Linked DNA regions of Homo sapiens. The protein of the gene in region 2 interacts with the protein of the main gene of each other region in a pairwise test. Each region holds a gene or a part of one and is shown on either strand. Other genes may lie near its edges.

Region 1 (10,064 bases), about 54 Mb from region 2:
ATCTGGACTGCCCACTGGGATCTCCCTCTACCCTCAGGTACCCTCCCCCTCAACCCCTACCCACCCGGCACAGGGAGACACTGGGTCCTGGCCCCCCTCGCCTATGCCCATAGAGTCCCCTAAACTCAGTCTGACAAGGCCAGTGCCCTTTCATAAGGAGGGACCTGGGCACATCTGCCACCTTCCTGCAGGAAGCCCCAGTTGCCCAGAACCCCTGCCCGCTGGCCACTATAATGTCCTTGGTGTGATAGAGAGAGCTCCTCATTCTGGGTTAGGGGAGGGGAGGCAGTCTGAGTCCACCCCTAGATTCATCAGATGTTAACAAAATGCCTGTCTCAGCCAGGCGTGGTGGCTCACACCTGTAATCCCAGCACTTTGGGAGGCCAAGGCAGGCAGATCGCTTGAGGCCAGGAGTTCGAGACCAACGTGGTGAAACCCCATCTCTACTAAAAATACAAAAAATAGCCGGGTGTGGTGGTGCACGCCTGTAATCCCAGCTACTTGGGAGACTGAGGCACAAGAATCACTTGAACCCAGGAGGCAGAGGTTGCAGTGAGCCGAGATCACACCACTGCACTCCAGCCTGGGCAACAGAGGGAGACTCGGTCTCAAAAAAAATTAAAAAAAAAAAAACCCTATCTCAGTGGCAGTGGACTGAAAGGCAGTGCCTGCCAGAGGGTACCCCAGAATAACCTGGCCCAGGCACCTGGCTCAGATCACACACTTCACACAGCCAGCACTACCCTGGGGCCTCTGGCAGTTCCCTGGAGACTAATCACCCAACTCCCTTATTCCCAGGCCCCTGGCTTCTCCCAGGGCAGCCAGAGGTGATTTTAAACTGACATCTCAGTCACTCCCCAGCTTAGAACACCATGGCTTCCCCACCACTCACAGTCAAATCCCAAGTTCCAGCCCCTGCAGAAACCCCCTCACTATCACTGTGGCCTTCCAGCCAAATTTTTGCTTTTTCTGACAATGCTCAGCAGGCTTCTGCTTTCCATTCCTTTGTCCTCCATCTCAGAGCCCCCAGGGAGCATCCTCACCACATTCCCCAGTACCACCCTCCCACTCTTTACCTCTCCTGCAGCACTGCAGAGCCGCCTCCCTGACACGGCCAAGGTCCGAGGGAACCTCCCCACAGCTTTTCGGGGTCCTCTGCAGCTGTGGAGTCCCCACACTACCTATGTTTTCCTACTCATGCCCCAGTCTCAGGAGTTCCTGGGGCCTTCATCCCACCACCTCTGAGGGCTTTCTACCCCTGGGCCTGTAAACCCATCCTCCCTTGCTGCCAGCCTATAACGGGACAGCTGGAAACCAGAGAGACACAGGAGGCTCCCTGGAGCATAGTTTCCCAACCTGCCAGGACCTCCTGCCAAGGCTCCATACCCATCATGTGCATCCCAGGCTGCTCAAGTTTCCACCACCACCCTTCCAAAGGCCAGGACAGGCTCCTGCTTCCCTACCCAGCCTCAGGATCCCCCTCCACAGAAGCCAGTGCCTGCTGCTCCACAGAGTGGGGCTTTCCCCTCCCCCACATACCTTGCACTTGGGGGAAGGCTCAATTTCTAGGCCCCCTGCTAACCAAAAGTAACAGAACAGTGCCAGTGCCCTGTAACTAGTGCTCAATTCCCCCTCAGGTTTAACTCTCCGATGAGAGATTGCTCCCTCTCCTCCCCCGCCCTGGCTCACCCGAGTGGATGAACATGTGCTTGGTGTAGTTTTTCCGGGAGCTGAACGTCTTGCGACAGTGGCTGCACTCATACGTAGGTGGCTCAGCACCTGGGGTGCGAGCAGGGGTGCCTGAGGGGGCCGTGGTGGGAGCAGCAGAGGGAGCCGGGACCTCCCCCAGCTGAGTACTGGGGGCTGCCTCGGGCTGGAGTGTGGGGTAGAAGGCGGGTGGGGGCGCAGGGGCTGGCCCCGATGGTGCTGAAGGGGGTGGTGCGGGTGGCCCAGGGGCACCCAAGTGAAAGGGGAAGAGTGCAACGGGCGGCCCTGGGGTCTTCACACCAGGCGGGCGGGATCCAGACAGTATGCAGTCGGGCTGGACAGGGGTCTCAGTGGGACAGCCTTCGGGGACAGCGCCATCCTCGTCGTGCCAAGTGGATACATAGCTGTCTGGAAATACGTCCTCAGCTGACCCAGCTCCCCGAAGAAAATCTCTCCCGGCACCACTGTAGTCAGCGAGGCCAGTGGGTGCAGGGGGCTCCTCGCACGCGCTGTCAGCAGCAGCAGTGAGGAAGCCAGCAGCACAGTCTGGGAAGGAAGGAGGTGCCTGGCCCTCGCCTGGGCCGCCACCTTCGCCATCCTCGCCATCGGTCTCATCGTCACTTTCCTCGTCATCCTCGTCACCTCGGTCATCAGGGGCCGCGGACAGTGAGGGGTCAGCATCAGGCCCCTCAGCCTTGGCAGGTGTTGGGGGCGCTGGCAGCTGCAAACGCGCGGGCTGGCGCTGCTTACGGCTGTGTGCAGCACCGGGGTGCCCCGGGGGACGTGCAGCCAGCAGGTGGCGCAGGCGGTGACGCAGCTGCGCAGGTGCGAGTGGCGGGGGCACAGGGGTGGGCAGGGGCGTGGGCGCAGAGGTGCCCGGGGCTCGAGCGCGGGCGATAATCTGCGTGCATTCGTCGATAACTGTCTGTATGCGAAGCACTGACGCGGCCGTGAGCACCTGCAGGGCTTCACCCTGCGCCACAACGAGCGAACCGCTGTACAGGAACTCTACCAGCTGTCGCACTGTCTGCGCGGGCACCACCGGAGGCACACGGATCTCAGAGTGGCCGAGCAGCAGCTTGTCTTGGAAGAAGGGTGAGCCGGCCGCCAGCACGCAGCGGTGGGCACGCAGCGAAGCTTCACGAATGCGCACAGTCACGTCACAGAAGTGTCCCCCAAGCCTCTGCCCATTGAGGGTCTCAAGCAGAGAGCGTGAGAAGTTCTGCAGGTGTATGTGATGCACAGCCTCTGCAGCCGCCATCTGCACAGAACAAGAGGAGGGCAGGGAGAGGTCAACTGAGGACCCCCATCTGTCCCAACGTCCCTGTCCCCTCACCCCTTGTTGCAGGACAGGGCTCGAGTGCACCACACTCCAAGGCGCGCTAACCCATCCCTCCCCAGCTGCCCTTCACAGTCCCCATTCCCAACACAGGACACTCCAGCACTCCCTCCTCCCCCTACCTCAGACCTGGCCAGGCCGTCTACAGCCCCCCATTAACGCTGCAAACCCTAGCACACCCCTAGGAGAGGGTGTTGGCCTCAATCACTGCTCCCGAAAAGGTTCAGGCCTTGGCCTACTCTATGTTGACTCACCCACCCACCCCACCCCAACTCCAATAACCCTAAGCCTCCCCATGTGCCCCTCCAAGAGGGCAGCCCGGTGTGTAGAAGAGGCCAGGGACCCCCATCCCAACTGGCTAACCTGCCTCACCCCGAGTAGACCTTGCTCTCTACCCAGCTAGCTTCCACTCCTCCTCCACCCCTGCTGACAGCTCCTTTTGGTTTCCTTTAGCCACATCCCCCCAGTATGAGACCCTGTGCATAGGCAGGATTGCTGCCTCAGAACCAGGTCACCTTAACTAGTATATACAGAGGCTCTCGCAGGAGTGGGGTGGCATGACCTGCTTCCTGGGCAGGGTGGTTCTGGGTGTGCCTAGTCACTAAGGGCTGAGGGTAAAAGGTTGGGCAGTACCTTGGGAGATGCCCCAGGGAAACCAGTACATGCTCCCTGGCAGCCCCTAGCATAGCGAGCAGGGAGGTGGCTCCTGCAGCCCCAGCTTCTTGCCATCTCGATGGGGCCTGTGGGGCCCAGGGTGTGGGTGTGGCACAGAGAGGGGAAGTGTGGATTGAGCAGGGGTGTGTGACTGGATAGCTGCCCATGGAGTAATCGGGGACACGGCCCAACATCAGGCACCAGAAAGGGGAGGGGGTAGTCCTCAGAGGACTCTGGAATCTGAGGAGTTCTGCTACTCCATCCATCAAGCAGGTAAACCGTGATCCTTCGGCCTGTTTCCCCTTCTATCAAACAAGGGATGAGATACTCGGCTCATCCCGCACCCAGACTGCACACACCTCCAGTCTAAGGGAGGAGGGTAGGAGCTCTGGACTCTGACATCCGTATAGGCTCCACCAGCCTGTCTCTCCCTTGGAGTCACAAAGCCCCAGGGTGGGCTCGGCTTGATGCTGCCCCTACACCCTCGGGCTCTACTGGGGTCTCAAGATTCAACCCCTCCGACTCCTTATGCCCAATCCGCCGTCCCTTTGCTCAGCCAGACGCCTCCCTTTTTTGCATGCCCCACATTTGACCCTCAGACCACTTCGAGCACCTCCACTGCCCCGTTCCCGCTGTCCTGGACGGATGAAGAAACCTGGCTGGTGTCTCTGCGCCCCTCGCCTCCCCTTCTGTTCCCCACACGGCAGCCAGAGGGAGCTTTTCCAGACTACGGATCCGGATACACCACCCCGCTCCCTGGCCCTGTTCTGAGCCTTCTGTGCAATGCCTCAAAAAAGCCAGGCCTGTGCCCGCGCAAAGGCTAACTCAGCAAGCAGCACCGCCCCATCTGTATTCACCTAGCACCTGAAAGGATTCTAATCTGTCCGGCCGATGGGGACGGAAACTTGCGCATCAACCCGAGAGACTTGAACCTTCCTTTCCCGCCCCGCCCCGCGACGGGCTCCATTCCTCAGTCCCGACGCCGCAAGGCCGGCCTGGACACTTCAGAACAAAGGCCTGCACTCGAGACCCGGCGCCCAGGCCAGCTTCCCGGGTCCGGCGCCGCACACTCCCGCCACGCCTTCGCCGCGCCGTGTGCTTTACTCCGAGCGCGTTCTCCCATACTCTGCTCCATTGCCCGCGCCCCACCCTACGCCCAAAGCACCCCTCTGACCCGCCGCTGCCACCCCGCACTCTGGCCCCCGCCGTACCCCGGTCCTGCAGCGCCCCCTCGCGTTCTCAGCGTGCGCTTCTAGCGGAGCGCAGGTGCCCCTCCCCTGGCACGCCCCAGCCTCCTCGCCCGCCCTGCGGCAGGGGGATGCCCATTCGACCCCACCTCCGACTCCTCTTCAGGCACCAGGCTCTGCCGTGGCCGCTTCCTCCTGACCGACTACAAGGCCGCACTTCCGGGCCGTTACCCCGGCGGAACGGAGGCCTGCGGTCGCGGCGGCGCAGGGGAAACCCTAGGCCGAAGCACGTTTCCGGTATTTTTATGGCGATCAGCTCCCGCCAGTCTGCACTCCGGCTCTCCTCTTAGTCGGAACCAAAGTCGAAGAGGCTAGGGCTGCCGCGTCGCGAGGAATGTCTGGACCAGAGCACTCTTCCGGCGTCGCCCAGGAGATCAGGGGTGTGGCGGGCCTGCGCGATCAATCCGCAAGCTCCCTGTGATGCAGAATGGGAAGGCAGTTCCCGGCCCAAGTGCCCAACGTGTTCTGGCCAGTTTAAACCCCACTGCGAACCGGGGAAGTGGCCTTATTCCTGTGACACGGGTGAGAGCTGAAGTAGGTCTCGGTCCCTGGCCGCCAGGAGGTGCAAGCAAGCTACCACTACTGCAGACGCTCCAGGCCCGCCCGCTGTGGGTGGGACTGGGGAAAGGACCCCATCTCGGCCTTGGCACCTTCTACTACAACGCAGACAGGAATAGACAACTGCCTCACCCTGCTCTGGGCCTCCCCTGAGCTAGACCCTGTGAGATTCTGGGACATTGCAAGTCAATCTGGTATGGGGGACAGAATTCCGAAAATGGCCCCCTCCGAGATTTCCGTGCCCAAATCCCCAGAACCTGTAAATATGATTATCTCACCTATGAATAGTTACACTACATGGTGAAAGGGTTTTTGCGGAAATAATTAAGGTTACTCATTAGCTGATCTTAAAATAGGATATGATTCTGGATTATTTTGGTAGGTCCAAGGTATCATAAGGGTCCTTAAAGGCAGAAGAGGAAGGTGGAGAAACTTGAAGTAGGAGAAGGGTTCCAGAGGCTTTGAAGGTAGAGAGGTCCATGAGAGGAAATGCAACAGGACAGGTGTCATGCTGAGAATCTGAGAAGAGCTGCAACAACAGCCAGCAAGAAAACAGACCTCATGGCCCGGCGCAGTGGCTCATGCCTGTAATCCCAGCACTTTGGGAGGCCAAGGCGGGTGGATCACGTCAGGAGATCGAGACCATCCTGACTAACACAGTGAAACCCCATCTCTACTAAAAATACAGAAAATTAGCTGGGCGTGGTGGCAGGCGCCTGTAGTCCCAGCTACTCGGGAGACTGAGGCAGGAGACTGGCATGAACCCGGGAGGCGGAGCTTGAAGTGAGCTGAGATCGCGCCACTGCACTCCAGCCTGGGCGACAGAACGAGACTCCGTCTCAAAAAAAAAAAAAAAAAAAAAAAAAAAAAAAGGCCGGGCGCGGTGGCTCACGCCTGTAATCCCAGCACTGTGGGAGGCCGAGGCGGGCGGATCATGAGGTCAGGAGATCGAGACCATCCTGGCTAACACGGTGAAACCCCGTCTCTACTAAAAATACAAAAAAAAATTAGCCGAGCGCGGTGGCAGGCGCCTGTAGTCCCAGCTACTCAGGAGGCTGAGGCAGGAGAATGGCGTGAACCCGGGAGGCGGAGCTTGCAGTGAGCCAAGATAGCGCCACTGCAGTCGGGCCTGGGCGAAAGAGCGACACTCAGTCTCAAAAAAAAAAAAAAAAAAGAAAGAAAGAAAAGAAAACAGACCTTAGCCCTAGAAGTGCGTGGAGCTAGATTCCGCCCACAACCTGAATGAGCTTGGAAGCAAATTCTTCCCCAGAGCCTCCAGATAGCAGCTTAGTCCATACCACACCTTGATTTTAGCCTTTATGAGACCCACAGAAGACCTACTTGGGCTTCTGACCTATGGAATGGTGAGCTAATAAATGGATATTGTTTTAACCTATGGAGTTTTGGTAATTTGTTATAGTAACGATAGAAAACAAATACATCTGGTGAGATCCAGGGCCTCCACACAGTGAGAGTCCAATAAATGCCACTATTTGTTTCCCATCTGATGAACGCATTCCTCACATTTCCCTCACTGAAAGCTTTATTTCTGTGCCTTCCCAGCTTTTACCAGGCCCCTTCGTGATCTCATTCCTCAGGGAGCAGTTCTCACTTCCCCTATCCCAGAGGACAGAGGGACTCGGCAGTGAAAGAGGGAACCAACTGTCCAAACGCATGACTAGAACAAAGCCTCCAGAAGACAGACAGGGTCAGGATGCCTGTCCTTCACCCAGGACAGCTACTGGGTGATTGTGTTGTAGATGTGGTATTTGGAGGTCAGGGGGAGGAAAATATGTACCAGGTGGGAAACCTCATTAAAACACAAGTCTAGGCTGGGCACAGTGGCTCACACCTGTAATCCCAGCACTTTGGGAGGCCGAGGCGGGTGGATCACCTGATGTCAGGAGTTTGAGACCAGCCTGGACAACATGGTGAAACCCCGTCTCTACTTTTTTTTTTTTTTTTTCTGAGACAAAGTCTCGCTCTTGTCCCCCAGGCTGGAGCGCAATGGCGCGATCTTGGCTCACTGCAACCTCCGCCTCACAGGTTCAAGCGATTCTCCTGCCTCAGCCTCCTGAGTAGCTGAGATTACAGGCACCTACCACCATGCCCCACTAATTTTTGTATTTTTAGTAGAGACGGTGTTTCACCATGTTCACCAGGCTGGTCTCAAACTCCTGACCTCAGGTGATCTGCCTGCCTCGGCCTCCTAAAGTGCTGGGATTACAGGCATGAGCCACTGTGCCCGGCCTGTCCCTACTAAAAATACAAAACATTAGCTGGGCGTGGTGGCGGGTGCCCATAATCCCAGCTACTTGGGAGGCGGAGGCAGGAGAATCGCTTGAACCCGGGAGGCAGAGGTTATAGTGAGCTGAGATCGTACCATTGCACTCCAGCCTGGGCAACAAGAGTGAAAATCCGTCTCAGAACAAAAAAACAACAAAAAACACACAAGTCTAATAACCTGCCATCATCGTCTTTGTTCAGACTCAAACCATGGCCTGCTGGACCCACTGGGTCTGCTTTCACTGGGCTGAGTTTTGGGAAGAGCATAAGGGTAGGTGGGAAAGGCATGCATGAGGCCTCTGAGGAGGGAGGACGGCCCTCCCTTGGGCAAGACAAATGAGTGAACCTTGGGCTGAGTGGCAGGATTGCAGTGTGTTGAGGGGGGGAAGCCATGTCCCATTAGCCCCATTAGCATGTTTAAGGGGCTGTAGGGAAGACAGTGCACCTAGTGGGGTGGCAAACGCAGGAGTCCTAGCAGGAAACAATAGCTGCCCTGACAGCAGTGAAGGGTAGAAAGGGACAGATTCAGGGTAGGAAGGAGAGGACACGGGTGGCTTTAGAGAAAGTCTCAGCTCCAAGGGATGGGGCCTGGAGGATTAGGGCAAGATAGGGGTGGAAGACCCTGCCCAAGGGCTAGGATGAACACAGGAAGGAGAAAAACCAAACCCTGACCTCTCTCAAGCAGCCAAGGGAGGTGAGAGCTGCAGCCTCAAGGGTTATTTTCCTTTTCTCTCTAAAGATCTTTTCACAAGGCTGGGCGTGGTGGCGTCTGTGGTGGCGTCTGTAATCTCATAATTTCAGCACCTTGGGAGGCTTAGGCAGGTGGATCACCTGAGGTCAGGAGTTCGAGACCACCCTGGCCAACATGGTGAAACCCGGTCTCTACTAAAAATACAAAAATTGGCCGAGCACGGTGGCTCATGCCTGTAATCCCAGCACTTTGAGAGGCTGAGACAGGTGGATCACCTGAGGTCAGGAGTTCGAGACCAGCCTGGCCAATATGGTGAAAACCCCATCTCTAGCTGGGCATGGTGGCGGGCACCTGTAATCCCAACTTCTCTGGAGGCTGAGGCAGGAGAATAGCTTGAACCTGGGAGGCAGAGGTTGCAGTGAGCCAGAGATCAGCTGTCATTGCACTCCAGCCTGGGAGACAAGAGCAAGACTCCATCTTTTTTGTTTGTTTGTTTGTTTTGAGATGGAGTCTCACTCTGTCGCCCAGGCTGGAGTGCAGTGGCGCAATCCTGGCTCACTGCAAGCTCCGCCTCCTGGGTTCACGTCATTCTCCTGCCTCAGCCTCCCGAGTAGCTGGGACTACAGGCGCCCGCCACCAGGCCCCGCTAATTTTTTTGTATTTTCAGTAGAGACGGGGTTTCACCGTGTTAGCCAGGATATGGACTCCATCTTTAAAAATATATATATATAGAAAAATTAGCTGGGCGTGGTAGCAGGGGCCTGTAGTCCCAGCTACTTGGGAGGCTGAAGCAGAAGAATCCCTTGAACCCAGGAGGTGGAGGTTGCAGTGAGCCAAGATCACGCCACTGCACTCCAGCCTGGGAGACTCTGTCTCAAAAAAAAAAAAAAAAAAAAGGGCTTGGGACGGTGGCTTATGCCTGTCATCTCAGGACTTTGGGAGGCTGAGGTGGGCAGATCACCTGAGATCAGGAGTTCCAGCCTAGCCAACATGGCAAAACCCCGTCTCCACTAAAAGTACAAAAATTAGCCAGGCGTGGTGGTGGTGGGCCCCTATAATCCCAGCTACTCGGGAGGCTGAGGCAGGAGAATACCTTGAACCCGGGAGGCGGTTGTTGCAGTGAGCCGAGATCGCGCCACTGCACTTCAGCCTGGGCGACAAGAGCAAGACTCCGTCTCAAAATAATAATAATAATAATAAAAAGAATGTGTATATATATGTGTGTGTGTGTGTGTGTGTGTTCATATATGTGTGTGTGTGTGTGTGTGTGTGTGTGTGTGTGTGTGTATGAACCCAAAGACCTTAACCCTGGTTGTGGGGGCATTTCAAGGAATAAATGTGTACCTGAGAACACAGGTTTGACAAGCTAGGGAGGAGGGCGATGTGGCCTGCAAATATTAAAAACTCCAGGCTAGGCCGGGTGCAGTGGCTCACACCTGTAATCCCAGCACTTTGGGAGGCCGAGGCGGGCGGATCACGAGGTCAGGAGATCGAGACCATCCTGGCTAACACGGTGAAACCCCATCTCTACTAAAAATACAAAAAATTAGCTGGGCGTGGTGGCAGGCGCCTGTAGTCCCAG
Region 2 (10,238 bases):
GTGCGGAGGAGGGGCGGTGAGCGGCGGGCCGGAGAGCCAATGGGCGCGGGCCGATCGCGCGGCGCGGCGCGGGGGCGGGGCCAGCCCGCCAGGGGGCGGGGCCTGGAGCCGGGCTCCCCTCGCCGGGGGCCGGTGGCGGTCCCGGCTTCCGGCTGCGCGGCCCGCGGGCCGGCCCCCTCCCCGCCCCGGGGCCCCTCCCCGCCTGGTTGTGTAACCGTCCCCAGCCCCCCTCCCCTCGGCCCCCCGCCCGTGGGGGGGGGGTCACCCTCCCCGCGCTCCCCGGGGAGGGCGGCGGCCCGGGCGGCCGCGCGGTGCAGGCGAGCCCGGGGATGCGCGGCCTAGCGCAGGCCGGGCCCGGGCGTGGGGGAGGCGGGCGGGCGGACCCAGATCCGGGGTAATTTGCATCGCCCTCCCCCCAGCCCGGGTGGGGATTGGCCGCCGGCGGCGGGGGGTGGCGCGGGGCCAGGCTCACTGCCGCCTCCCGGCCCCTCGGAGGGAGCCAGCCCAGCCGCAGCCGCCGCCACCGCCGCCGCCGGGGCCGGGCCCCCTCGCCGCTGCCCCGGGAAGGAGGTAGGAGCCCCCCGCGCGGGCGAGGCGGCGGGGGACCGCGGGCCGGGCGGGGGCCGCGCGCTGCGGCCGGGGCGGGGGAGGGGGCCGCTTCCTGCCCCCGCCCGGGCCTGACTCAGCCCCGGGTGGGGGGCCTGGCCTGGCCCCTCGCCCTGCCCGGACGGCCGTCCGGCTCCGACCCGCGGGAGGGGGCGGAGAGAGCACCCCAGTCCCCGCCGTCCGCGCCCCCAAAGCGCGTGACCCCGTCTCCTCTGGCCCGGACCCCCCCTCCTTTCCCTTGACGCCACCACCACGTGCGAAGCCTGAGCCCGGGCAGGGGAGGGGGGAGCTGGTGGGATCCAGCCCCCTCCCTCCCGCTCCCTACCTCCCGGGCGGGAGACCCAGCCCCCCCGGCCTGGGAGCCTGGCTGGGGGCTGAGCGGAGCGGAGGAGCGGGTGCCCCCCCAGGGACCGGGCCTCTGCGGGTTCTGGGAGGCGCTGCCCGGGCTGGCTGGCGGGGGCGCACGGTGGGCCGCGGCGGGAGGTTGCTGTCCACCCGGGCCCGGACACCCAGTCGGCGCCCACTAAATGTTGGCGGAATGCAGCCAGGAGTTGGCGGCGAGGCGGGGGGAGGCAGCAACTCCTCTCCCCCCAGTCAGGCGGCGGAAGTCACAGAGGTGCTGGTGCCCCTGCCACCCGCGGCACCCACCTGGCTCACCCATGGGTGGCGGGCTCGGTGGGCCCCCCCACCTCCCTGCCAGCTGCCTCCGGAGAGGGCGTGGGGATTCCGTGTCAGTGCCCCCCGCCCCAACCTCAGAACTGGACCAGGGCGTAACCCTGAGCGTGCCGCTCCCACACTGGGGGTGCCTCCCCACCACCGGCCGATCACTTCCTATTGGCAAACTGGTCTGGGAGAGGTCCCGGGGAGGCCAGGCTGGGGCAGGGGCCCAGGCCAGGCCAGGCCTAAGCCCAGCCCTGCTGCTGCCAGGGCCTGAGGGCTTCAGGCCGGGGGCGTTTGTCCGCGAGGGCCACCCGCCATGGGGCCCCGAGAGCACCTATCGGCGGGGCCGGGGCCTCTGTTTACCACCAGCCATCGCTGTGGAGACAGAGCTTGGGGGAGAAGGGGGGGCAGGAGCCGGCCGCTGGAAAAGCGAAGTCTAAGGAAGGAAAGAAGAGCCAACCGGGACACTGAAATTTTAATTCGTGGGTCAGTCCGGGGGGTATTTATTATTCAGTTCCGATTGGCTGCGTGGCGGCCAGTCAGCACCTGGGCCCGGGCGGGCAGCCACGCATCGGCAGAGGCCCGCGGGCGGCCGCAGGCAGTGGATGGGTCCTTTGCTCTGTGCGGGAGACTGAGGCGCGGCCGAGGCAGAGCCCAGCCTGGGGCCTGGTCGGAAAGGTTCCTGGGGCGATCACAAATCCCTGCTGGGTGTTTGTTTGTTTGTTTGTTTTTTCCTTTTCTTTCCTTGAGTCCCTCTGACCTATAGCTGGGTCCACCTGGTGGCAGATCCCCGTTGCCATATGAGGAGGAAACCAAGGCCGGGAGGGGAGGTCAAATGTGAGCCTGGAAACTCCGGAGGTTAGAGCAAGCCTCGGAGCAGGTGCCGGTACTAGGCAGGGGAGACTGAAGCGTAGGGGGAAGCAGAGAGCGGCCCAAGGTCACTCAGGTGGGGTCAGAGCTGCCCCCTGTGCTCCATCCTTCCAGCTCGGGGCCTGTCCAAAGTCCCCTCCCACTGTGTGGTGGCCCAGGGGCGCCTGCCCACCTGTCTTTAAGCAGGGCCGGAGGTTGGCAGTAGAGGCTCAACTGCAGGCACCTGCCTGCAAATGGAGTGTCACCGAGGCTTATTAAACCCTGTGTCCGAAGATGACATTGAGGCTCAGAGAGGGCCAGCATGGCTCCCAAGGTCACACAGCACGAGCCACAGCCCTCTCGCCTCCCTGCCTCACCGGGCAGGCCCTGGCTGGCGCACGTGCATACGAGGCCCCTCTGCAATCCTGCCGAGCCACAAACTCGTCTCACCTTGGTCCTCAGAGGCGGGCAGGGCTCTGGGTTTTATGACCAGAGGAGACCGAGGTCACCTCCCCAGAGCCAGCCCACTGCAGCCCAGATGCTCCAAGGAGGGCTCCTCAAGGGTTGGAATGCTGGCACGCTTGCTCTGCGACCTTGGATGAGCCCCGTGACCCCTGCAGCCGGGGCGCGCTGTGTTCCTGGGGCTGTGGAGGGTCCCCCAGCTGCTGCCTGCAAAGCCACCCGTGGTGTCTTTTCTCCTCCGCGGCGGAAACTCCCAGGTCAGCTCAGGGCATGGCAGAGACCTGAGTGTGGGGTGTGGGTCAGAACTGCGTGAGACACCTGCACCCCCACCTGTCACCTGCCAGACCATAAACTGCCCTGCAGTAGCCCTGGGCAACAAGGACAAGAGGAACGAGCTTGGGTGGGGGTGAGCCTTGGGTGGGGGTGAGCATGGTCCAGTCCTAGCCCAGCCCTTGGGTCCACCCCAGCAGTCACTCCCCCTCTGCCAGCCTCAGTCTTCCCATCCAGACAGTGGGGAGATGGTCATCAGCCCTAGAGTGTTGTCTCGAGGGTTCGCTCAGCGGCTCATTGGGAATGCTTGTTGAGCGACTACTGTGCACTGTGTCAGGCCCCTGCGGAGCTGTCTTGAGAGCTGGAGGGGCAGAGGCCCCTCCCTGAGCCACCCATGTCAGCTGGACTCCAGCCCTGCCCCAGGCTCCTGTGTGAGAGCTCCCTTGCAAGGCAGCTCTGAGGGTATGAGGATAAGCCGTCCTTCCTCTCAGCCCCCAGGGTAGGGGGATTTCATCTCCTGCTGGTATCCGGGGGCCAGGAAAGGGGATGGAAGGAGCCGTGGGAGGACTAGTTAGGCAGGCCAGAGCCAGACAGACGGCCCGTGCTCAAATTCCAGTTCTGCTGCGCGACCCTGGCCAAGCTGCTCCCCCTCTCTGATCCCGTTCCCCGTTTGCAAAATGGGGCACAGACACAGATCCTGCCTTCCAGCGCTGTGGGTGCCGTCACGTACCGTGGGTCTCTGGGGCGATTATCAAGGCCCAGCCTCCCCCAGCTGCTCCGAGGAGCGGCTCTGGCCCTTGGGCCCCGAGCGCCGAGTCCAGAGCCCCAAAGCGCAGAAGGCGCCCCTCAGAGAATCCGGCGCTCGGGAGGAGCGTGGCCAAAGGACCAGCCCCTCCATCTGTCCCCCCAGCAGGCTGTGGACGGCCACTCGGTGGAAGTGTCGCCACCCACGCCTTTCTGGTTTGACTGGAAAACAAGGCCCATCCCACCTATCAGGATGCCTGAGAGAAGGATCTGGCCGGATTCTGCAGGCCGCCAGGCTCCCAGGCTGAGCCTTCCACCTGCTCAGGCGAGAGTGGGGGTGGGGCAGGTATCTCCAGGTGACAAGCAGGCCTCCCTCAGGGGAGGGAGAGAGAGGTCACCTCGGCCTCTCACAGGCATCTCAGCTAAGCAGGTGCAGCCTGGGCTGATGGCAGGGTGGACAAGGATGGGCTTCCGAGAGTCTGGCCTTGCTTGCCCCCAGTGACGGGAAGCTCAGCCCCTCCACTGTCGTCATGAAGCTTCCTCTTGGAACCTGGGCTCGGGCTGTAGTCTGGGCTTCCTGGCCCATGACATCTCAGAGTGTGGGAACAGGGTGGGCCTCAGTCCCGCCCATGAGTTGGGCGTCAGATGGGATCCCCCTGGCCTCCTCATCGCTGCCCCCATCCCCGCTGTCACACTTCCCACTGGGTCCCCACGGCCTTCCTGCCTCTGGCCCTTTAAGGCCCAGGCAGGAAGCCCCTCCCCATTTAGGGCAATAAATGGACACGTAAAATGGCCGAGGGCCTGTTTGCTCCATGTCTGGCCCAGAGGGAGGCCTGCGGGCGAGGGCAGGCGGGCAGGGGGCGGGCTGGCAGCTGGCAGCCACCCCAGGCCGTTGGTGCCCCCCGATCGGGACACTGCATTCCTGTCCCATTAAACCCAGGCCGAGGACTGGGCCAGGCGGGGCTTGGCACCAGGTCAGGGCGGGGTTACCCGTCGGGACCAACCTTGCAACACAGGCCGCTGGGCGGGGAGGGGGCGGGGGCTGCCGGGTGCGGGCCTGGCAGCCGCACCTGCACACCAGGCTTACAGTGTGACCTTGGGCCGGCCGCCCACCCTCTCTGGGCCTGATCTCCCCTTCCAGCTTCCTCCTCAGGCCCCACCACTCACTCCCTTGGTAGGTGAGGAGGGGACTGAATTCCCGGAATAGCATTCAGGAGCAAAGTTCCCATCCGTGAGGGGTGGTGAACAGCCTGGCAATGTGTTTTGGGGACTGGCTCTGGCGCACATTAGGTCCCTGGGCTAAGTTTGCTGAATGGATGTGAGCGGGACCCTGACCACAGTGGGGGGCCCCTTTCCACTGTTACGACCCCCATCCCCCAGGAGACAGAGGCTCAGAGAGGTCTCGCATCTTGCCCAAGGTCACACAGCTTGGAGGTGGGGGAGCCGAGGCTTGAACCCGAGCTGCTCTGCACAGCACATGAGGGGTGAGAGGTCCCTTTGGCCTCCTTCCCTGCTCTCCCTGGGCAGAGGGTTGGGTGGGGGCCCTGATCCCCTCATTAGACGGCCCCCTGCTCCAGGAAGTGACCTTCGGGAAGGTGGCGGGTGGCAGTTACCTGCCCAGCCCTCACCTTGTCGTGTGACCTTGGGGAGGCCCCTGGCTCCCACACCCTGCACTAGCGATGCAGCCTCCTCTCTGCCGGTCCCCCTTCCCCGGTCGCCCACCTCCAGGCCTCAGTTCCTGATGCTCCCCGTGCTGGGGTGCCCTTCTTGGGATGCCGGGGTCCTTCCTAGGCGACATCTGCTGCTCCCTGAGCCACGTCAGGGTGCTTCCGAGCTCACGACACATCCCCCGCAGCTGGGAAGTGGCAGCTGCCCAGATCAGAGGGCTGCTGTGTGACCTCGACTGGGCCGCCTCACCTCTCTGAGCCTCTCAGGGACCTGGGGAAGACGAAGTGAAGGTGCCCAGTTAGTTTGGGAGCACAGAGGGGGCCGAAATGCGGCCCGGGTGCCGTGGCTCTCGACAAACACTACAGCAAGTGACCCTTAGGTTAGATGGGAGGTGGGACCGGCAGGCTGCACAGCCCCCTGCTTCTGGGTATGCCTGGCAGCCAGCTGGGTGGGCCGGGGCGTGGGCTGTCTCTGGTTTATCCGGCGGTTTGCTGCGCCCCTACTATGCGCCACCCTGGGAGGGTTGGGCTTAGGGGCCTGGGAGTGGCCCGGGGGGAGGAGGGCGCCCCACCTCCAGCCCAGGAGGGGCCTGCCAGGGCCTGCCCCTCGGCCGCCGAGTCAGCACCAAGCAGCCCCGGAAATCCCACGGAGGCCAGCGCGGGGGAGGAGCTGTGATGAAAGATGGGGCCCCGGGTGGGTGTGGGCCGAGCCCAGGGGACCCTGGCCGGCAGGGGTGGGGACCTGGCTGGCGTGGGGCCGGGGCTTCCTGGAGGAGGGGAACGAAACCGCCACCTCCGGAGGCGTGTACCGTGTGTCGGGCGCACAGTGGGGCTTCAGCACTCGGGGACTTTTTATTGCCAAGACTTTGTGGCCCCCGCCGGGGGTGCTCTGGCTGGGCCCGGCCTCCCCTCTCCCACCTCGGAGGCAGGGTCTTCGGCCCTTTCCTTAGGGGAGGCCTCCAGGAGGCCTAGGTGGGGGCATTGGCGCAGGGCGTGGCCGGCAGGTGGCTTGTGTTCCTGGAGTGAGGGCGTGGGTCAGTTGTCTCAGAGCGAGTTTAGTTTCCAGGGCGAGGGCAGGGCCTTGCCCTGGGTGGGTGGGGGGACCGGCCCCTCCATCATTTCCTGGCCCCCAGCCCCTGGGAGTCAGCCCTGCCGGGCATCCTTAGGCCAGGACTGCAGCCCTCTCTGGGCCCCGGCATTCTCATCTGTAAAACGCGGCCACAGTCCTCTCACGGGGGCTTTCCTTGGCTGACATCACCCCGGGCCTCGCTGCTTTGAGGGAGGGCCTCAGTGATATTTAGGGGGGAACAGGGGCCCAAGAGAGGGTCCCAGGCTGGAGAGGGCAGAGACTGGGACCCCCGGACCCAACCTGGAACTGGGATCTTCACACTGGCGGGGACCTGCAGGAGGTCGCTGAGCCACCTGGATTATTTTGGGCCCATCCTCCAGGCCCCAGGAAAGACACCTCCCAGCCACTCCAGAGCGGGGACCCTGGTCACCCGAGGGGAGGAACGGCCCAGCAGGCCAGGGATAGCCATCTTGGGGCGTTGGTGGCCTGGGTCAGAGGTCTCCCCCCATGCTGGGGTGGGTAGGAGGGCCCGGGCCCGTCTGATCCGGAGCTCCATCTGCTCACACGCTCCCCGCGGCCCAGGGCCAGACGGCAGATGGTGGCAGGGGGTGGACACCACCAAAGGGGACTCCTCGGAGGCTTCCCAGGGCCGAGCCTTGGGTGGGGTCGCTCCCCTCCTACCCTCCCTGCTCCCAGCAGCCACATCTGAGCCCACCGCCCCACCACAGGCCTTAGAGTAGACGGGGGTGCTGAGCAGCTGGGCCCTGGGCCGAGGCTGGAAGGAGGGAAGGAAGGCGGGTGGAGGGGCCTGGGGAGCGTGGTGGCACTGAGCAAGCTCACAAAGGCCTCTGTGTCGCCTGGCAGCTCAGGCCCCGCGCTGAGGGCCCTGGGCTTTGGGTCCGGCTGGACCGACACCATGCCTCCCTTGTGGGGCCTGGCTCAAGCCCGTCGGCGTCAGAGCCTGCCTGAGCTGCTGGGCTGGGGGACAGGAGGGTCTGGTGGCCCGGAGGAGGCCATGAAAGGCCCAGCTCAGGCCCTCTCCCCAGGGGCCTTGCCCAGGGGCTCTGGCCCGAGAGCCACCGGCCGGCCTGGAGGAATGTGAGCTGTGCTGGGTGACTCGGGGCCGCCAGGGGCTCCCAGGAGAGGGCGGAGGGGTGGGGACAGGGGCCAGAGGGTTGCACAAGCTCCGAGTGGGTGGATGAGTCACAGCCGAGGGGAAGGCGGAAAAAAGGGAGGGGGAGAAAGGGGTGGGACAGACACAGTCCCCCCAGGGCCCGGCGCTGCCCGAAACCTCTGCCCATTTGACAGATAGGGAGACTGAGGCCCAGAGAGGGCCAAGGCCTTGGCTGGGGCTGAACAGCTCAGCTGGGGTGGCTGAGAGTTGGGGAGGGGCTGCCAGGCAGTCCTGTGGGCAGGCAGGAGGTGGACAGGGGTTCCCCCGGCTCCCTGCTCCTCCTGGGCTGTAGCCCGGTCTCTGTTACTCACAGCCAGGGCTGAGCCCTATGCTGGGGGCTCTGAGGGGCAGGAAGGGGTTTAGCCTGCGGAGTCACTGGCCCTGTCCGGACGGGGCACACCCACGGTGGCCTTGACCTCAGCTGGGTTTCGGCACTGGGTCCCCGTGCCTGGGCTGCCACACCCCTTCCTGCTGACTCAGAGCCCCCCTGAAAAGAACCAGGCCTGACCAGGAGGCAGGAGTCAGGGTTGGGGAGGCCAAGGGGTCGGCTCTTAGGTCCACTCTGGGTTTGAGTTTGGACGCAACTGTGTCCTCATGGTGGGGCCTCGGGCAAGTGGCCTCAGCTCACGACGGAGTGGGTGCTGCCGGTGGGGTTCGGGTGGAACTGGCGGGAAGTAGGTGTTATGTGTTGTTGTTATTGTTTTTTTTTTTTTTTTTGGAGACGAGTCTCGCTCTGTCACCAGACTGGAGTGCTGTGGCGTGATCTAGGTGGCTCACTGCAGCCTCCACCTCCTGGTTCAAGTGATTCTCCTGCCTCAGCCTCCCGAGTAGCTGGGACTATAGGCCCGCGCCACCAGGCCCAGCTAATTTTTTGTTAGAAATGGGGTTTCACCATGTTGCCCAGGATGGTCTCAATCTCTTGACCTCATGATCCACCCACCTTGGCCTCTCAAAGTGCTGGGATTACCGGCGTGAGCCACCGCGTCTGGCCATAGTAGGTGTTTTGTAAAGGTCACTGCGTGGCCTCCCCTCTGTATCGGCCGAAGCCCGTGCTCAGATCAACAGGAAAATGGCTCAGATCAGGGCACTTCTCTCGAGCTACTGCGTCCTCCTGTAGCGCCTCAGAGTGCCCTTTCCTTATTTATTTATTTTTCCAACACGGAGTTTCGCTCTTGTTGCCCAGGCTGGAGTACAATGGCGCAATCTCACCGCAACCCCCGCCTCCCGGGTTCAAGCGATTCTCCTGCCTCAGCCTCCCGAGTAGCTGGGATTACAGGCACGCGCCACCACACCTGGCTAATTTTGTATTTTTAGTAGAGACGAGATTTCACCATGTTGGTCAGGCTGGTCTTGAACTCCAGACCTTAGGTGATCCGCCTGCCTTGGCTTCCCAAAGTGCTGGGATTATAGATGTGAGCCACAGTGCCCAGCCCTTTTTTTTTTTCTTTTTCTTTTTCTTTTTTTTTTTTTTTCAGACCGAGTCTCGCTGTGTTGCCCAGGCTGGAGTACGGTGGCTCCATCCAGGTTCACCACAACCTTCGCCTCCCGGGTTCAAGCGATTCTTCTGCCTCAGCGTCCTGAGTAGCTGGGATTACAGGCACGCGCCACCACGCCTGGCTGATTTTTTTTTTTAAGACGGAGTCTCGCTCTGTGGCCCAGGCAGGAGTGCAGTGGTGCAATCTCGGCTCACTGCAACCTCCACCCCCCAGGTTCAAGCGATTCTCCCGCCTCAGCCTCCCGAGTAGCTGGGATTACAGGCACGTGCCATCACGCCCATCTATTTTTGTATTTTTAGTAGAGACAGAGTTTCACTGTGTCAGCCAGGATGGTCTCGATCTCCTGACCTGGTGATCTGCCCGCCTCGGCCTCCCAAAGTGCTGGGATTACAGGTGTGAGCCACCACACCCAGCCTAATTTTTGTATTTTTAGTAGAGACAGGGTTTCACCATGTTGGCCAGGCTGGTCGCTGGTCTTGAACTCCTGACCTCAAGTGATCTGCCCACCTCAGCCTCCCCAAAATGCTAGAATTACAGGCGTGAGCACCGAGCCGGGCCTCAAAGTGCCCTTTCAACAGGCATTCCCGGGGGCCCTCCTCGGAGGGGTGGTGCCAGTGTGCTTGTGAAATTTAAGCGTCCAGTGTGGGTTTTGCCAGCCTCATCTCACGCTGATGAGACAGAACAGGGCATCTGACTGCTCTTGGGCACAGCTAGGGAAACTGAGGCTGATGGGGGGCAGGAAACCTGACTGTCCTCATGCACAGCTGGGGAAATTGAGGCTGGGGGCAGGACAGCTGGCCGCCCTTGTGTACAGATGGGAAACAGGTTGGGAGTGGGACACCTGATTGCCTTCCTGTACAGCTGGGGAAACTGAGGCTGGGGACATGACGTCTGATTGCTTTTGTGTACAGCTGGGGAAACAGGCTGGGGGAGGCAGGACATCTGACCATTCTCATGCACAGCTGGGGAAACTGAGGCTAGAGGATAGGACATTTGACTGCACTTGGGAACAGCTGGGGAAACTGAGGCTGGGGAGCCGGGACATCTGGCTATCCTCATGCACAGATGGAAAACAGTCTTGGCCGGGTGCCGTGGTTCATGCCTGTAATCTTAGCACCTTGGGAGGCAGGGGCGGTTGGATCATTTGAGGCCAGGGTTTTTTGATTTGTTTTGTTTTTTTGAGATGGAGTCTTGCTCTGTTGCCCAGGCTGGAGTGCAGTGGCGTGATCTCAGCTCACTGC
Region 3 (10,238 bases), on a different chromosome or scaffold from region 2:
GCCTGTTTGAGAACGAAGCCAACACAGAAGAGAGTGATACCAAAAACACTGTCCAGAAGGTATCAAGACTCTGGAATCCAGGTATGACTAAAGTTGGCACCACCCTAGGACTTGTTTCATGAGCCAGTGAACTCCCCTTTTACCTTAACCTGGTTTGTGTTGGATCTCTGCCACACAGTCAAACATGAAGTTCAAATTACATCTCCCAGGAAAACCTATATAATACAGCTATCTCAAAACCTTTAGAACTTTTTTGGATCTAGAGGGAATATTTTAAAAATTCAGTTCATTTGGGGGATATAAAATTTGCTATTATCTGCTCTGATGGAAGGGAATCATGAATCAAGATCATTCTTACTCAGAACTCTCAAGTAATTCTAGCAAAGTCAGAAGGCCAGTCTAAAAGCCTTAACAGAGCTCAGGCTGAGTAAATTAAGAGTTTTACCCAAAGCTGCCTGTCTGAAGCCTTCTAACCAAGGAAAAAGGCTTCAGGTCTCTTTAAAAGGCTCCAAAATGTGACAATATGAGTCAACATAGCTGGAGGAGAGTGTGGCAAGCAATCTACTGATGTATAACTGTGTCTAACCCAAAGCAAGTGTAAAGTTCAGTATTTGTTATCTGCAGGAACAAATATTTAGGAATTTCAAAACTAAATATAATTAAGAAAATACACTCTCATTACTGTCCATTACATTAACATGAATAATCAAAAGATGACTTTTCTCAATAGATTTACTTTTCTAATAATGCTTTACTTAGGCTAATAAAGTTCCTTTCTGTCTTCGGAGAACAAGCCAGCACATTTTAAACTATTTAATTTATACACTGATATACCCACATGCTTCTCAATAATATACTTCATTCATAACAAAAACCGCACCCATACTCAAACATCATCTACTACCATATCAAGTAATTTGCTGCTTGCCTGCCAGGCAGGATCCACACAGTTGTCACCTGCAGAAAGCAAATTAACATTCTAAGGAATCCTTAACATTCAGTAGCCCAATCTAGATAAAACCCTAGCAGATCCTACTTCTGTGTGGGCTCAGCAAAAACAAAAACCCTAGTGATATGGACAGGAGACAGGGAAATGCTGGGTAGAAGAAGGCAGTACCCCAGCTAAGGCCCCACCCTCAAGCCTGGAAACCTGTGGCCCTAAATGGGAACAGGCATCCCTGTTTTTGCACCCAAATGTTGCCTTTTGGCCTGCCACACCATGCTATCCTGTACACATATAAACCCCAAACCCCAGGTTCCACAGGCAGATGAGCAGACAAACAGAATGTGCAGAGGAGCATAAGAGCAGCGTGGCCAAGGAGAGAAGAGAAGGAGCATCTGAATGTCAAGAGCCATTCAGCTGGGGATGGTCAGAGAGATCGGCCACAGGACAGCCGAACTCCAGGGGAAGATCATCTTCCCACTCCATCCCCTTTCCAGCTCCCCATCCATCCCACTGAGAGCCACCTCCATCATCCAATAAAATCCCGAATACACCATCCTTCAAGTCCATGTGTGACCCAATTCTTCCTGGATGCTGGACAAGAACCCAAATACCAAGAAGGTACTGAGCTGGTTAACACTTAACCCATCTGCATATGGCAAGCTAAAAGAGCACTGTAGCATGCCCAATGGGGCTTCGGGAGCTGCAGGCACCCACCCCTAGATGCCACCGTGGGGCCAGAGCCTAAAAGAGCTTGCCCCAGCTCCTGCCCCTGCCTGTCTCTGTGCTCCTCCTCCTGTAAAGGGTTTTAGCAGTGGTGGCAGCCAAACAGACGAGCCACATCATTGTCACACGTCCTGCGAGGGGGGTTCAGAGAACTCTCCCATTTCATCAGCAGAAAAATAACTAGACAGAACATTTCCTCCACTTGTAGAGACGATATAGATGAAAACAAAAGTCAGAGAGCAGAACAAAGCAAGGACCCACTCAAGTAGGCTAGGATTTTTTTTTTTTAAATACAGGTGGGGTCTCAATATGCCCAGGCTGCTTTTGAACTCCAGCGCTCAAGCAATCCTCCTACCACAGGCTCCGGAAGTGCAGGCTAGGATTTTTTTTTTTTTCTTTTTTTGAGGCAGGATCTCACTCTCTCACTCAGGCTGGAGTACAGTGGCCTGATCACGGTTCACTGCAGCCTTGACCTCCCAGGCTCAAGGTGATCCTCCCACCTCAGCCTCCTGGGTAGCTGGGACTACAGGTGCGTGTCACCATGCCTGGCTAATTTTTGTATTTTTTGTAGATAGGGGGTTTTGCCATGTTGCCCAGGCTGGTTTCAAACTCCTGGGCTCAATCAATCCACCTGCCTCAGCCTCCCAAAGTGCTGGGATTACAGCCGTGAGCCACCCACCCACCTGGCCCAGGCTAGGAATTTTGACAGGGCTCCAAGTCAGACAGAGCGGAGTACTGGAACATCCATCCATTGTTCTAATTTGACCAGCAAAGTGGGAGTAGGGGAAGGCTGGAACTAGGTGGGCACAATGATGCCTGGGTTAACCCCAAGAAACCAGACCTGTCAGCATGACTAATGTCATAATATCTCTGGTTCTGCTCTGTCAGGGTTGGCTCAGAAACTGAACAGATTAGTTCTATAAAACAGGAAAATTCCACTAGTGACTAAAGATGAGCATGACTGAGGAAGGCGAGCTGGAAGCCCTGACCATCTCACCTAACTCTCCAATTCTCTCCACATTGCCACCTTGTTTTCCAGGCCAAAATCCCTAGGGATGAATTGACCTAGAGCTCTGTAACTCAGTTTGAATAAGAAAAGGTATTAGTGCCCTACTTAGGTTCCTAGTACAAGCTCAAATGCTTTTTCTACTAAAACAGCTTATTGAGGGCAGGAACTGTATTTTCTCTCTCTCAAAGTGCCTGACATAAAATACTCAGTAAATTATTTGCTGAATAAACTTTTGCTATATATGGATGAAGTATAATGTATTACCCAAAAATCACTTTTCTGAGAATCACAACTATCTCTAAAATCAGCCAAAAACCAGAAGAAAAAGTCTCAGAATATCCAAAATAAAGATCAAAGACTATGGATGAAAGATTTTCTCATAGGAAAGTCCCTTAAGCCCTCACACAGTCTTTTGTTCGAAACAAAATTCAAGTTTTTCTAGTTCCCTAACTAACTGAAGCAGCAACTCCAGAATGAGAGCAAGGAGTGGCTGCTTAAATGAAGTTAAGCTGATAGCTGCAGAAAGAGACAGCTGACCCACTAAGGGGGAAAAGAGGCCCAGCAGCTTGGAGCTAGGTAGTATACAGCTCAAGGGACCTCAACAGCCCATAAAGGTACTTGTGTATTTTTTGTATACAAGTTCATTCATGTAATATGTTTTTTGTTTTGTTTTGTTTTTGAGACAGAGTCTTGCTTTGCCACCCAGGCTGGAGTGTGGTGGTGCAATCACAGCTCACTGTAGCCTCCACTTCCCTAGCTCAAGTGACTCTCCCACCACAGCCTCCCAAATACTGGTACTACAGGCACGTCACCATGCCCAGCTAATTTTTTATTCTTTGTAGAGACGGGTCTCACTATGTTGCTCTGGCTGGTCTCGAACTCCTGGGCTCAGGTATTCCTCCTACCTTGGCCTCCCAAAGTGCTGAGATTACAAGTGTGAGCCACCATGCCAGCATCATCTAATGTTTTAAAGTGCTTACTTGTTCAAGGTTAAGCGCTGTGGAGCATAGATTTGTATGGGACAGTACTAACTGTCACAGGTATTTAGTGGAAATAAGATATACATGAATAACGATATTACAAAGTGGAAGGCACTAAGTGCCACATAAGAGGTGAAAGAACCTCTCAATGGTTTGGAGAAGGCAAAGGTTATTTCTAGCTTCATGGTAGCGTTGACAACAGAGCTAGGTCTTGGTTGGATTTGGACAAACCCCTAGACAGAGGTAAAGGTGGAGAAGGGGTTGAGGTGGGTAAAGCAATGTATTCGATTTGGCTGGAAAATAGTATGGCTAGAAAGGTAGGTATTGGATAGTGACTGCTCATAACTGATGTTAATAATTACAAGTCATCAGAAAGGTTAACCATGAGGCACATACTTTTGAACTAAAGGCTATCATCACTTTTGAGATTACTTTCTTAAAAAGTATTTTAGGGTTTTTTTCTTAAGTTTAAGCAGCACATCAGCCAGAGTCATTGGTTGCAGCAACAAAAATTGATCCTAAACATAAAAGTAATTTACTGAAAGGCTATTAGTTTGATCATGGAATTGATGGGAAGGCTGGATACGTAAGATTGAACTGGGAAGAAATTAAGCTAGGCAGCAGGAACAATCAGGTCAGAATGCCAAACATCTGTGCTGAACACAGCTACTACTAACCAAATGCTCACTCCAATGGAGACCCAGCCTCCCCTTCCCTACATCTGTTATTAAGTCTCAACTCTTGAGTACCTGTTTTCAATATGTGTGATAAAATGGGAAGTACACCTGAAGTTTTCCTCCTGCATTCTGAAATACAAGTTGCCTCAAGAAAAAGCACTTGTGCAGTTTTTGAGGTGGCTCAACTAATTGCTTTTCTCATGGGACACTATTTTTACTTGAAAGAACGAATGACAAACTATGGTTATTTAGAAGTATTTACCATTTTCTTGAAAATGAATGAAAAAATGAATGAAACAAGCCTGTTATTTTAAATAAGATAACTTAGTACTACTTATTGCCAATAAAAAAGTTTGAGAATTCAGGTGAAAATTAGTATTTTGGAAAACTTGTATCTGTCACTGTGAGCTTGACAGCTTCCCACATGCTCAAATTCTTCTGACAGATCATTGGTGATATTAATGAAATGTGATTTTTTTACATTGTATAATAAATGAGTCAACGTTTGGAAGATCTGCATAACTCTGAAATCAGTATTTTCCAAATGACCATGTAGCCATGTAACAATAATGCTATAAAACAAGGTATGGGTAAAAATTCATTCAAGGTACAAAACATAAGCTAATGTATTTTAATGCAACAGAATATGAAAAGTTCATTGACATAATTTCAGATTCCACATTGCACTAATCACTTAAGAAAATACCACTTGTGGAGTTTTGGTACAGTATCAGAGTAAGAATATCCAAAATTATCTGAAAAATCTACTGAAATAATCCTCCCTTTCCAACTACATATTTGTGTGATGCTGGAGTTTTTTGGTATATTTTAATCAAAATAGTGTATCACGGCAAAATGAATGCAGAAGCATTTAATGGAATCCAGCTGTCTTCTATTAAACTACATATTAAAGAGATTTACAAAAAATGTAAAACAGGGCATGGGCATGCCAGCCCCTGCTTCTCAGCCTGTACTCCCAGCACTTTGGGAGGCCAAGGCAGGTGGATCACCTGAGGTCAGGAGTTTGAGACCAGCCTGACCAACATGGAGAAAAGCCGTCTCTACTAAAAATACAAAAAATTGGTGGGGCGTGGTGACACATGCCTGTAATCCCAGCTACTCGGGAGGCTGAGGCAGAAGAATCGCTTGAACCTGGGAGGCAGAGGTTGCAGTGAGCCAAGATCGCACCACTGTACTCCAGTCTGGGCAACAAGAGCAAAACTCTATCTCAAAAAAAAAAAAAAGTTTTCTTTTCTTTCCAATCCCAACTGATGTGTAGCATAAACAACTTTTAAACATGTCTTTTACCCCTGACAGATCAAGAAACTTTTTTTTTTTTTTCAGGCAGAGTCTCACTCTGTTACCCAGGCTGGAGTGCAGTGGCACAATCTCAGCTCACTGCAACCTCCAGTTCAAGCAATCCTCCTGCCTCAGCCTCCCGAATAGCTGGGATTACAGGCGTGCACCACCATGCCCAGCTAATTTTTTTTTTTTTTTTTGAAATGAGTCTTGCTCTGTTGCCCAGGCTGGAGTGCAGTGGTGCGATCTCGGCTCACTGCAAGCTCTGCCTCCCGGGTTCATGCCATTCTCCTGCCTTAGCCTCCCAAGTAGCTGGGACTACGGGCGCCCGCCACCACACCTGGCTAATTTTTTGTATTTTTAGTAGAGACGGGGTTTCACCTTGTTAGTCAGGATGGTCTCGATCTCCTGACCTCATGATCTGTCCGTCTCGGCCTCCCAAAGTGCTGGGATTACAGGCGTGAGCCACTGCGCCAGGCCATTTTTTTTAATTTTTAGTAAAGACTGGGTTTCATCATATTAGCCAGGCTAGTCTCAAGCTACTGACCTTGTGATCTGCCTACCTCAGCCTCCCAAAATGCTGGGCCTGGCCAAGAAACTTCTTTCTTAATGAAAAAAATTAGTCCAGCTAGGCACAGTGGCTCACGCCTGTAATCCCAGCACTTTGGGAGGCCGAGGCGGGTGGATCAACTGAGGTCGGAAGTTCGAAACTAGCCTGACCAACATGGAGAAACCCTGTCTCTGCCAAAAATAAAAAATTAGCCGGGCATGGTGGTGCATGCCTGTAATCCCAGCTACTCGGGGGCTGAGGCAGGAGAATCGCTTGAACCCGGGAGGTGGAGGTTGCAGTGAGCCAAGATCGCGCCATTGCGCTGGATCCAGCCTGGGCAATAAGAGTGAACACTCCCCCCCCAAAAAAATTAGGCCAGATGCGGGGCTCACACCTGTAATCCCAGTACTTTGGGAGGCTGAAGCGGGAGGCTCATTTGAGACCTGCTTGGTTAACATAGCAAAACCTTTTCTCTACAAAAAAATTTTTTTTTAATTAGCTGGGTGCTGGGCATGGTGGCTCACGCCTATAATCTCAACATGTTGGGAGGCCAAGGTGGGAGAAATGCTTGAGTCCAGGAGTCTAAGACCAGCCTGGAAAACATAGGGAGACCCCCACCTCCACAAAAAATACAAAAATTAGCTGGGCGTGGTGGTGCATGCCTGTAGTCCCAGCTACTTGGGAGGCTGGGTGGGGGAGGGTTGCTTGAGCCCAGGAGTTTGGGGCTGCAGTGAGTTATGACCATCCCACTACACTCCAGCCCAGGTGACAGAGCAAGACCCTATCTCAAAAGCAAAACAGAACAAAGTAGAAAGAAAAAAAAAAACTAAACTTTTATCAAGATGAAAACTATGACAAAGCTTTGGAGACACTATTATTATGGTGCCTTTCCAACAGAGAAGATGAACATGGACTTAATCCATTTCTTACACCTAGTTTACTTTCAAAGCAGTATATGCCTTCACTTCTCAATCATTTATCAAATCAATAATGCTCAGCAAGTGACCTTCACTTGACCTGCAGAGTTGCTTTTGATCATCTATTCAAAATAAGTACAATCTAAGTAACTTAAATGTGTTTAGATTTTTGTAGCATTTCTGGGCTCCTCCCACAACCAAATGCCCAAACACTGGATTTTGTTTTCCTGGTCTTCCTTCCTCAAATCCTCTTCGCAAAAAAGACTAAACCATAAGGACTATAAAGGTGAAAGCCTTGTATTTTTAGAGGAAGATGGTTGAGTGGATTTTAAATTATAATTGACTAAGATGTACTGAAAAATTAATTATACCATGTCAACAATATCATGCATAGAAAAAAAGGGGAGCAACTCACCCTAAACATTTTAAACTTAAGAAAATGGCAATCAGCCAGGTGCAGTGGCTCTCATGCCTGTAATCACGCACTTTGGGAGGCCAAGGCAGTCGGATCACCTGAGGTCAGGAGTTCAAGACCAGCCTGGCCAACATGGCGAAACCCTGTCTCTACCAAAAAGTACAAAAATTAGTCGGGCATGGTGGCACGAGCTGTAGTCCCAGCTACTCAGGAGGCTGAGACACAAGAATCATTTGAACCCAGGAGGCGGAGGTTGCAGTGACCCGAGATCAGATTATGCCATTGCACTCAAGCCTGGGTGACAGAGTGAGACCCTGTCTCAAAAAAAAAAGTAAATTAGGAATAAAGGCATTTGTAAACCTGTTACCATACAAAGTAACAGATTACCAAGTATAATTTCCAAAAAGTAGACCTATCACTTAATCATCCTTTAAAATTTGTAAAATGAACATTTTATTTGTTAATTTCCATTTACATAAGGAAAAATATCACGCTCGATAGGCTTCTTTTCAGTAACAAACATTTTCCAGAGCAGGAAAACGAATTAGGAAAATTTATTGGTTACAATTACAAGGAATTAGTTGGGTACAAAAGTCTCTTTATGGGGGATAGGCAGCCAGGATTTTACTATGTTGCCTGGGCTGGTTTGAACTCAAGTGATCCTCCTGCCTCAGACTCCCAAGTAGTTGGGACTACAGGTGTGTGCCACCTGAGCTAAAATTCTATTAATTTTACCAAATTTCATTAAATCTAAGATGTCTGTGATTATAAAATGCATTATTTCATGTAACACTAGGAAAAAAACTGCCAATTAAGCTATGGCATAATGCTTACTTATGGTATCCTGTCTTCAAGGAAGGAAAACTGTCTGCCAATGACTACTATGATAGAGGCAGGAGACAGACAAATGCCTAGGCAGACAGGGGCACATCCCCAGTGAAACCCCACCTCCAAGCCGAAGACAGTTTAAAAGCTTGAAAGCCAAGCTACAAGTCAAATCCACGGACCAGATTGAGAACCTGTGTTCCCATTTGGCATGCTTTCCTCTGACTGATCCCCACCCTTCACCTATTTTACATATATCTACCCCTTTCCTAATTGGTTTTCTACACTGTCGTGCCCACCTTTGAGTGGTGTCTTTGCTTTAACCGTTTTTTTTTTTTTTTTGAGACAGGGTCTCACTCTGTCTCCAAGACTCCAAGTGTGCAGTGGCATGCTCTCAGCTCAATGCAACTTCTGCCTCCCAGGCTCAAGCGATTCTTCCGCCTCGGCCTCCTGAGTAGCTGGGATTACAGGCGCACGTCACCATGCCGGGTTAATTTTTGTATTTTTAGTAGAGACAGGGTTTCACCATGTTGGCCAGATTGGTCTTGAACTCCTGAGCTCAGGCAATCTGCCCGCCTCAGCCTCCCCAATTGCAGTAATTACAGGCGTGAGCCACCACACCCGGCCTTCCCTTTAAACTTTTTGCATCAGAAACCAATCAGCACACACTCCCCATTCTGAGTCCCTAAGAAGCCCCGGAACCAGCCACACTGGGAAAGAGACCACCCCCTGCATGCCCTCTTCTCTGAGAGCTGTTCCATCACTCAATAAAATTCTTCTCTGCCCTCCTCACCCTTCGAATTGTCAGAGTAACCTAATCTGTTTGGGATGTCAAGATAAATCAAAGCTTTTAGGAAATACATGTATAACTAATAAAATGAAAGGCACCTCTAAAACTGGATCTTGAAATTAAAAGCTACTATTCAGTGGTGAAAATGATGAGAACATATGCAAAGAGCAATAGTTCACTCAGAAACAGCTGGTCTTTTAGGAGATGAGAAGTTCACTTCATACTTAGACAAAAGGCATAGTGTAGTGCTACATTCCATCCCACCTGCTACACTAACAAAACTGGCTCTACTAGACAACATCCATATTTGAGAAATATTACGTACAGTAAAAGAAAAATCACACGCTTAAAACTGACAGAGGGGGAAAGTATTTAAAATTAATTTACATTAAAAAAAAAGTTGAAAGCTAACATAGAATCAATACCTTGGGTTCTTTTTTCCATTTCCAAAACGAATGTGAGCCAGATTCAAGATTCTCTGTCAGCACTACACCAGGTTTTGTCAATTTCACTGAACACAAGATATTTTAAAGTCTCCAATTCGATATAATTCATGCTGAGTTCTTTAAGTACTATTTGATATCCCAGTGATTTTTTATTACTTCCACTTTGGGGACAGTCTTGTGAGTCTCTTTTGAGAGCGTTCGCTCCTAAGTCTGTAAGATGCCTTTCCTCCAAATCTTACCATTTTCAGAATTCTGCTAGAGACATATCAATTAACCAAAATCCAGCTTGCCAGCATCCTCAGCTAACTAAAAGTTATGTTTTGACACAACTTTTAGGGAAAAGGGGCAAATCTCTAGTAAACGAGTTGACTTCAGGACTCTTCAAAAAAAGAGTCTGTTTATTCAGCAAAACCCAAGGGCCCAAAACAGGTCCCCACCCAAGTAGTCTTACCTGTAAGGTCACCAAGCTGGCTGTGGTGGCCAGGTCAATCTTCCCAAATTTGATGAGATTTCCATAAGGGTTAAAAGGAAGAGTGAACGGTTTCCTTTGGCTTAGGGGCTTTTCTCTAAAATTCCTTGTCTTCTTCCCATCTGGACTTTTCCCTCTGAACTATTAGCTTACTGCCAACCACCGTCCCCACAGAAATCACAAGAGTTTAGG

The links.
Region 1: the proteins of ZBTB7A (region 2) and ZBTB45 interact in a two-hybrid assay, tested with the Homo sapiens proteins (one study listed by IntAct).
Region 3: the proteins of ZBTB7A (region 2) and ZBTB5 interact in a two-hybrid assay, tested with the Homo sapiens proteins (one study listed by IntAct).

Annotation. Positions count from the first base shown.
Region 1 is NC_000019.10:58,514,706-58,524,769, forward strand, and holds the start of ZBTB45 (zinc finger and BTB domain-containing protein 45), read right to left. Parts: upstream 5,106-10,064; 5' UTR 5,037-5,105; exon of another isoform or gene 4,912-5,036; intron 4,898-4,911; exon of another isoform or gene 4,314-4,897; intron 2,969-4,313; coding exon 1,690-2,968; intron 1-1,689. UniProt on the Homo sapiens protein: May be involved in transcriptional regulation. In the central nervous system, may play a role in glial cell differentiation.
Region 2 is NC_000019.10:4,055,762-4,065,999, reverse strand, and holds part of ZBTB7A (zinc finger and BTB domain-containing protein 7A), read left to right. Parts: intron 1-470; exon of another isoform or gene 471-570; intron 571-718; exon of another isoform or gene 719-1,752; intron 1,753-10,238. UniProt on the Homo sapiens protein: Transcription factor that represses the transcription of a wide range of genes involved in cell proliferation and differentiation.
Region 3 is NC_000009.12:37,453,896-37,464,133, forward strand, and holds part of ZBTB5 (zinc finger and BTB domain-containing protein 5), read right to left. Parts: exon of another isoform or gene 10,029-10,238; intron 1-10,028. UniProt on the Homo sapiens protein: May be involved in transcriptional regulation.